Regions from separate parts of the Homo sapiens genome. Here regions 1 and 3 are each linked to region 2. Evidence: fine-mapped expression QTL. A gene starts in region 2. Each other region holds a variant in brackets. All regions are shown on one strand. Distances are from middle to middle.

Region 1 (2,753 bases), 52 kb after region 2:
GCAGCACTTTGGGAGGCCGAGGCGGGTGGATCACCTGAGGTCAGGAGTTTGAGACTAGCCTGGCCCACATGATGAGACCCTGTCTCTACTAAAAATACAAAAATTAGCTGGGCATGATGGTGTGCGCCTGTAGTCCCAGCTACTTGGGAGGCTGAGGCAGGAGAATTGCTTGAACCCGGGAGGTGGAGGTTGCAGTGAGCCAAGATTACACCATCGCACTCCAGCCTGGGCAACAACAGCGAAACTCCATCTCAGGCGGGGTTGGTGGCATTGTGGGGGTTGGGAAGAATGCGACCTTATTTGGGAATAAGATCTTTGCAGATGTCATTAGTTAAGGATCCTGAAATTAGGGTGAGCCCTAAATCCACTGACTGATATCCTTATAAGAAGAGAGGATACAGAGAGACATGGGGAGAGAAGGCCATGTGAAGACGGAGGAAGGGACTGGAATGATGCAGCCACAAGCCAAGGGCTGTTGGCAACCCCCAGAAGCCGGAAGAGCAAGGAAGGCACATGTCCTGGAGCTTCCAGAGGGAATGAGGCCCTAAGACACCTTGATTTCAGACTTACAGCCCACAGACCTCTGAGAGAATGAATTTCTGTTGTTTAAAGCCACTAAGTTTGTTTTAACTTGTTGCAGCAACTCTAGGAAACTAATACAGACCCCACAGGGGCTTCAGAAGTCCAGGGGCTGAGGGCAGAAGTGTCAACGGATCAGGATAAATGGAGGAGGCAGAGTCAGACACAGCAAGAAAGAGACAGACAGACACAAGATGCAGCTTGCAGGACCCCCAGCTCCGGGGTCTGCCCGAGCTCCAGGCGGCCCACAGGCAGCGGCCAACCAGAAGCCACCCTGGGGGAGGTGTCTGGTCTCGGGGTGCATGAACCTCAATGGAGTTCCTCCCGGGGTGCTCGGCCGCCAGCAGCTGGTCGCCCTCGCTGTGCAGTTTGTTGATTCTCTCCTCTTTGGCCTCCAGGTTCCGGTTGATGAAATTCTGCAGTGGGGGGCAGTGGAGGGGCCTCAGTGCCCAGCCTGGCGGTCCCGTGCTCCTTCCAGGGCTGCCTCCTCCCTGATGCCCCAGGCCCCCAGAACCCACCTCATACTGGCGCCGGCGGCTGGGGTAGTCGAGGTTGCGGTCACTCCAGTCGTACTGCATGCGGCCCTTGGCCTGCTGGTCCAGCCAGTACAGCTCATTGGTGCAGCGCTGCATGTAGTCCTGCAGCGAACTCAGGTGCTGCTGCCGGGCCTGTGATGCTGCCTGAAGGGGCCGGGGCAAGGAAAGGGCTGCGTCCTCAGCCCGCTGCCACTGCTCGCTTCCTTCCCTACCTCCTGCAGGGCCCAGCTATGGCTGGCCTGAGGACAAGCCCAGCTATGGGTGGCCTGAGGACAAGCCCAGCTTA[G/T]CCACGTCCAGGCCAGTCCCCCTTAGACAAGTCACCTGAACCCCTGAAACTCATTCATTCATTCATTCATTCATTCAGTAAATGTTTACTGAGCATCTACTACATGCTGGACATGGCTCCAGACACTGGGGATACAGCAAACGAAACACACAAAACCCTTACGGAACTGACATTTTTGTGAAGGCTTAGTTCGCCCATCTGTAAATGGGGAAGATGACAGTCCTGACCTCACAGCGTACAGAGACTGGCATATAGTTGGTGCTCAACAAATATCAGTAACTATAGCTTCTACTTTTATCTGTATCATGATCGTCTTATAGAGGGCTGGAAGGAAAGCACCACTGTACGTCTGAGAAGCGGGTGTGCAAGGGAAAGGAGGGATGTTTGCATTTTGGTACGTGGGGCCCTCCACGCCTGATGAACTTCTGCAACATTGACTCATTTCATCCTCAAAGCGACCCTATGAGACAGGAACATGTAGGAGCTCCATTTCTCAGATGAGGAAACTGAGGCTCCCGGAGGCTAAGTAACTCGCTCAAGGTGTCACCACTAACACTAAGGAGCAGAGGAAGCATGGCTCCTTATAGCGACACAATGCTGCCTCTGTATTCTCTGTCTGAAACATTGGCAACAAGGAAGCGTTTGCATAACACTTATGCAATTTTTAAAAGAATGCATTCTTTAAAGGTTTGGGAAGGAAAATGGAAAGCTTTTGTATAGAAAGCAAGTGGCATCATACTTGGCACACAGCAGATAATAAAGAAATGAGCAGGACAGGCTGTACCCCTGGGGCCTGTTAGGGTTTTCCCTGAACAACCAGGGCAGACCTTGCAGCCGCTCAGGAAAAGGCTGGGGCACCTCTCTTCCCGCCTCAACCCCTCTCCTGATTGAAACGTTTACTGCACGCCTTTTTTTTTTTTTTTTTTTTTTAAAGGCAGGGTTTTGCTCTGTTTCCCAGGCTGGAGTGGAGTGGCACGATCACAGCTCATTGCAGCCTCCACCTCCTGGGCTCAAGCGATCCTCCCACTTCAGCCTCCCAAGTAGCTGGGACCACAGGCATGCCACCAAGCCCAGCTAATTTTTAAATGTTTTGTAGAGCTGGAGTCTCACTATGTTGCCCAGGTTGGTCTCAAACTCGTGGGCTCAAGTGATCCTCCTGCCTCTGCCTCCCAAAGTGCTAGGCGTGAGCCACCATGCCCAGCTGCCTATGTCATTTTTAAAACAATACATCCTTGTCCCCCCGACTCCAAGCTTCCCATCCTCTCCTCTCCCCATGAGGCCTTTCCCCCAGGGAGCTCCTCACCAGCAGTTTCTGGTACTTGGCCCGGAGTTCGCTGTTCTGCTCCTGAGGA
Region 2 (2,753 bases):
ATCTCTTCCTTTAGTAGCAAGACACTCACCTTTCCTGGCCAAGGAGGATATCGGCCGAGTTTCCCCCTAGAGAAAACACAAAGAGTCAACACTTGCCCTGCAAAAGCCAGTCCATCTCCTTCAACCCACTCAATACGCAATTTATTTTCCTAAATCTCTGCTGGCATCCTCAAATGCCGAAACAAAAGCTTTCATAGCTGGGCCCAACACCCTCAGAAGTAAAATGCAAAATTGTATACTTATGTGCACAACGCATATCCATTCTTCTGTTGACAAGGAATACAGAACAACACAACTGTCAAAAGTCACTTGTCTAGAGCTTCTTAATGACGGGGGTGGGAGGACAGCTTCCTCTGTAAACACAGACTTTCCCTCCCTAAGTCTGGTTTAATTCAACAGGAGACCTGCCTGGCTTTGACAAATGCTAATGGAAGCCTTCCTCTGGGTGGAGAAACAAGCTACGCAGCTCGAGGGAGGCGGCGACAAAGTCTTGGTTCGGGCGGTTGTCTGGGACACAGAAGCAGACCGCGGGAGGCACCCAAGCGTGCACTGGTCACTGCCAAGCCATCGGTTGTAAAGGAGAAGTCCCCCCGCCGTTTCTTCGCGGGGCAACGCCAGCAGTCCGGTTTAGACAACCCCGGCTGAGCCGGCCGCACAGGTCGGCTGCATCGCAACCTGGGCTTTGACCGAATGGCACCGGCCAGATCTCGCAGGTCCGGTCCCCGGCGCTTCTGCTTTCTGGGAAGCCCCAACAAGACCCCGGGGACCGGTCGTCCGGGGAAGCCTCGCGGCACCGGCGGCTCCCTTCACGGGGGCCGCCAGTATCTGGGCCCCGAGTGCAGACCCCACCCGGCCGGCCTCGGGGATCAAAGCCGGTGCCCGACGTGGCCACCCTCGGCCTCGGTCCCCCGGGACTGGACTGCCCCTTCCGCCTGGCGCCGCTCGCAAGCGCCGGCACCTTCTCTTCCCCTCTCTCCGCGACCTGGAGCGCATAAAAAGGCAGCTCCAGGGCCGGCAGCGAACCCCGCGCCCAGGCGGGTAGCTCCCCGGCGCGTCTCGGTTGGCCCGGCCGCTCGGACTCACCACACCAAGTCGCCGAGCCGCAGACTCACAGCCGCCATCTTACCACCCAACCACCGCCGACGCACGGGCCGCCGGGAACAGCAAGTCGCCCCGGCGCCGCCCATTGGAGTGGGCCCGACCACGTGACGGGGGCCGGCTGTCACTGGCCACGCCGCTACTCTGACGTCACCGCGCCCGCCGGGGATCATTGGTCGACCGAGGGGCACGTGACGCGAGCGCCGCGGTCTCCGCGCGCCGGAGCGCAGAGACTCCCGGCTCCTTCCCCCTCCCTTCGGCTCGTGACAACGAAGCGCCCGCGGTCTGAGGCGGCGGCGGCGGCGACGGTGCGACCGGCTGAGCGCGAGAGGGAGCCGGCCTCGCGGCTCGCCCCGCCCCCGGGTCTTGGACTCCGCGCCCCTCCCCTCTCGGCGCTTCCGTTACGCCCGTTGGTCCGGCGCGGGCCCCGGGGCCATTCCCGAGCCCGAGGCGCTGGTCGGCCCCGTCGCAGCGCCAGTGAGCTACCCTGACGGAGCTCGGCGCGGCCTGGAACTCAGCCTCCGCCGGGTCTGGGCTCCCGCGCCCGGCAACTCTGCTTGGCCGCAGGCCGGGAGGCCCCGGTGTCCGCGCCCGTCCGCTCCCGCCGCCCGTGTTCTTTGGAGCGCTCCTCCCGACGGCCGCTTTCGGAGGCGCCGTCTGAGCGCGGGGTCCCGCGCCGCAAGTTCTCCTGGGGCGACCGGAGGCTGCTCCCCCGACCCCCTGGTGTCCCCGGAGTGGCTGCGCGGACGTCGAGTTGGCATTTCTTCGCTTCCTCCTGGGCCGGCGCGCGGCGCGGCACACCAGGCTCCCCTGGGCTCGGGGACCCGGCCATGGGCCGAGGCGCGGGCCGCCCGCCCGCTGGGAGCCACGGCTTAGCAGCCGACCGCTAGCTGCGCCGCCGCCCGGGGACCGGCATGAGGACCGCCGCGGGGGGACGTCTGCGGCCCGCGTCGGCGCTGGGGACAAAGGTGCGTGTCGTTGTCGGGTCCGGGCTCTCTCGTTAGCCTTGCCCTAGTTTTGCACTTTTGAAAAAGTTGTGACAACAGGAAGACAGATGCCGGGCGTAGTTTGGACACTTTAAAACTGAACCATGAACTGGGAAGTGTTAACTGCAGTTGAGCGCAGCGTCGGCCCAAACTTCAGCAGACCAGGTAGAATCACAATTTTGCAAAAGATCCCAGTCCCGATCACAGACTCCACAGTGTTAAGGATTGACTTAGACTTGGTGTCGGGCTCTTGTTGAGTCACTGCCAGCTGGCAAAGGTGGCGAGTCGACACGCATTTCCCCAAGGCATTGTGGTGGTTAGAGATTTCGGTTGCAAGTCGGTGTTTAGCGTACTGGGTCGTCCCGCAGCCTGATTTTTCTTGGGAGATCAGTTTCCCTGAAGTACCAAGAATTAGCTGCACGGACTGTCATTTACTGCGTGTGTATTTTTAAGACAAAGTGATCTTTAAAGCGTATTTAAGATTCCAGGGAATAATTTGATAAAAATTTAACATAAGTTCCTGTTTAAAAATTCTGAATTTGTGAGGAATTGAATGAGATTTTAATAACTTAAATAAAAACATGAATCTTGGCCGGGCAGGGTGGTATAAGCCTGTAATCCCAGCATTTTGGGATGCCGAGGCGGGTGGACCACCTGAGATCAGGAGTT
Region 3 (2,753 bases), 25 kb after region 2:
CCGGATTTGTTCGGATGAGGAAGAAGATGAAGAAAAAGGGGGCAGGAGGATAATGGGACCTCGGAAGAAGTTCCAATGGAATGATGAGATCAGGTGTGCCCACACTGGGACTTGGCCTCTTTGGAGGGTTGGTGGGGCAGTGTCTGAGCACGTCCCCTATTGCTGACAAAGGTTAGGCTCATTTACTTTCATCAGGGCTGCTGAAAGCACATGATTGGAACCTTGGAGCAGCATCTGAAGTAGTTTGGAGTTTCTGATTTCTGCCTCCTTCTCAGGGAGCTACTGTGCCAGGTGGTGAAGATCAAACTGGAGAGCCAGGACCTGGAGAGGAACAACAAAGCCCAGGCTTGGGAGGACTGTGTGAAGGGCTTTCTGGATGCGGAAGTCAAGCCCCTCTGGCCCAAAGGCTGGATGCAGGCCAGGTGAGGGCCGTGTGCTGAGATGGGCATCTGTGCAGTCAAGACACGTTTGAACGCTGCTTTTGTGCCAGGCCAACAGGATCCTTGCTCACAGGGAGTCACTGTCTAGCTGCCTCAACTCTGATCTCACCTGAGTAACTGGGGGACATGCAGGTAGCTGGGAAAGGGTCTTCTGGATCTTCCCTGGAGGAAGGGAAGTTGCCTCCAGGGTTTTGTTTTTGTCATTTTTTGTCCCACTTCAGTTGATGTTTGGCCTCCCATCTCAATATGCACTTTCCTTTTTTTTTTTTTTTTTTTTTTTTTTTTGAGATGGAGTCTCGCTCTGTTGCCTGGGCTGGAGTGCAGTGGTATGATCTCAGCTCACTGCAAGCTCCACCTCCCAGGTTCACGCCGTTCTCCTGCCTCAACCTCCCGAGTAGCTGGGACTACAGGTGCCTGCCACCATGCCCGGCTAATTTTTTGTATTTTTAGTAGAAATGGGGTTTCACCGTGTTAGCCAGGATGGTCTCAATCTCCTGACCTTGTGATCTGCCCACCTTGGCCTCCCTAAGTGCTGGGATTACAGGCGTGAGCCACCACACCCGGCCACACTTCCTGTTTTAACATACAGGCTGCTATGAGCATTTGAGAGATGGGTTCATCTTGGGTCTTTCCTGATGTTCCTGAAGAAGTGTCATTTGCAGGTAGCAGGGCTGACTCCTTATTGGAACTAAGTGCCAGGCTTCCATCTCAGAGGCTACCTTGTACGAAGTCACTTCCTGCGAATGAAGTATTTGTGTCATACATGGGACAGAGAAAGTTAGCTGGAGTGATTTTCTTGATTGGACTCGAATCATCTGTTGTGCGGATAGATCTTGGAACCTTTGAAATTGCTGTCCTCTCTACGTAGGCTGGACTCATACGAAGAACGTTTTTGTTGAGTTTCTCTGGACAAAGACATGCTGGGTCACTCCACATTTTATTCCTGGAATGGAGGGACTAGGCAATAAGGAAAGTGCTGTGCCCTTTAGGGAAGCATCACCATGAGAGGTTTGAGGCAGAGCCATACATTTTCTTGGTAAAGGCCAGACTCAGCCTTTGGGCAGCCAGTGTGTCCCATTGAGATCCTCTCACCAGGAATTTGGCTCCCCAATCCATTGACCTTTTTTTTTGTGTGTGTGGGGGGTGGGTGGGCATGG[T/TG]GGGGGGGCGGGGACAAAGTCTCACTCTGTTGCCCAGACTGGAGTGCAATGGCACGATCTCGGCTCACTGCAACCTCCGCCTCCCCGGTTTGAGCGAATCTCCTGCCTCAGCCTCCCGAGTAGCTGGGATTACAGGCGTGCGCCACCACGCCTGGCTAATTTTAGTATTTTTAGTAGAGACGGGGTTTCACCATGTTGGCCAGGCTGGTCTCGAACTCCTGACCTCAGGTGATCCACCTGCCTTGGCCTCCAAAAGTGCTGGGATTACAGGCGTGAGCCACTGCGCCTGGCCAGTTGACATTTAATGAGGGATAGCTACTGAGGACCAGGGACACTAGCAAAGTTCTGGAAGCAGAGTCCCAGCTTTCTGGGGCATGTACAGATGCCTGGTGTTCTGTGTCTTTCAGAACTCTGTTTAAGGAGAGCAGACGAGGCCATGGGCACCTGACTTCAATCCTGTGAGTGTCTTGGTATTTTCACATCTCGGGACAAGTGTTGTTTTTGGTCTCCTCTGGATATTCTCTAAACTTTTCTGTGCTCATTCCTTTGAACAGGGCCAAGAAGAAAGTTATGGCCCCTTCTAAAATCAAGGTGAAGGTGAGTCAGTTTGCTCGGGTCACATGTCAGCTATGCCCATCTCCCTACAACTATGCTCTGGAAACAGTCAAGTGACTGTGGAAGCTCATTGATCTTTGCTCGTCTGGGGACAGCTGCTCAGGATGACATTCTTGAAGTCATAACAGGACAGAGACCCAAGCCACTTAACCCCCCTCTAGCCTTGGTTCTACAAACAGTACCCAGCTGGCCCAGTTCCTGGGGTTCATGTGGGATTAAGTGGGATCTTCTTGGCAGCCCTCTGAGGAGTCAGTAGTCCCTGAAGGTGTGAACGTGTTACACTGTGATCTTTGTATGGAAGAAATACACTCTAGCCAAGTGCAGTTTAGCTTGGAGCCACAGCAGAAAGAAAAGGCGACTTTACTGAGCTACCAGGCAGAAATGGAGGGCAATATAGTGGCTGGAGAATAGACACTGTGAAAATTACCTTAGATGTTGCAGAAACCTCTCAATGTAGTAAAAATTGCTGTTTATCAACATTTTTCCCAGTTCTTAGTGTGGTGCCCTTAGCCATCCCTAAGCAGACCGTGAGAATGAGATG

The links.
Region 1: its variant is fine-mapped to the expression of UBN1 in whole blood (TOPMed, PIP above 0.99).
Region 3: its variant is fine-mapped to the expression of UBN1 in whole blood (INTERVAL, PIP above 0.99).

The regions. Positions count from the first base shown.
Region 1 is chr16:4,898,126-4,900,878 of GRCh38, forward strand. PPL (periplakin) reads right to left here. Exons shown (of 22, transcript NM_002705.5): 6 at 2,705-2,746; 7 at 1,098-1,259; 8 at 888-995. All of the region lies in intron 1 of LOC124903637 (a long non-coding RNA gene), which reads left to right. Among named protein-coding and RNA genes, the nearest start is that of PPL, 38 kb to the right of the region's middle. The variant G/T (reference allele first, on the strand shown) is at 1,402.
Region 2 is chr16:4,846,145-4,848,897 of GRCh38, forward strand. UBN1 (ubinuclein 1) reads left to right here and starts at 1,337. Exons shown (of 18, transcript NM_001079514.3): 1 at 1,337-2,066. It overlaps GLYR1 (glyoxylate reductase 1 homolog), which reads right to left and starts at 1,144. Exons shown (of 16, transcript NM_032569.4): 1 at 1,084-1,144; 2 at 30-66. The coding sequence starts at 1,121. RefSeq lists enhancers at 588-647, 948-1,007, 1,303-2,145 and silencers at 1,198-1,917, 1,928-2,017.
Region 3 is chr16:4,870,880-4,873,632 of GRCh38, forward strand. It overlaps UBN1 (ubinuclein 1), which reads left to right. Exons shown (of 18, transcript NM_001079514.3): 11 at 1-93; 12 at 276-422; 13 at 2,005-2,055; 14 at 2,152-2,194. Among named protein-coding and RNA genes, the nearest start is that of UBN1, 25 kb to the left of the region's middle. RefSeq lists a silencer at 1-104. The variant T/TG (reference allele first, on the strand shown) is at 1,598.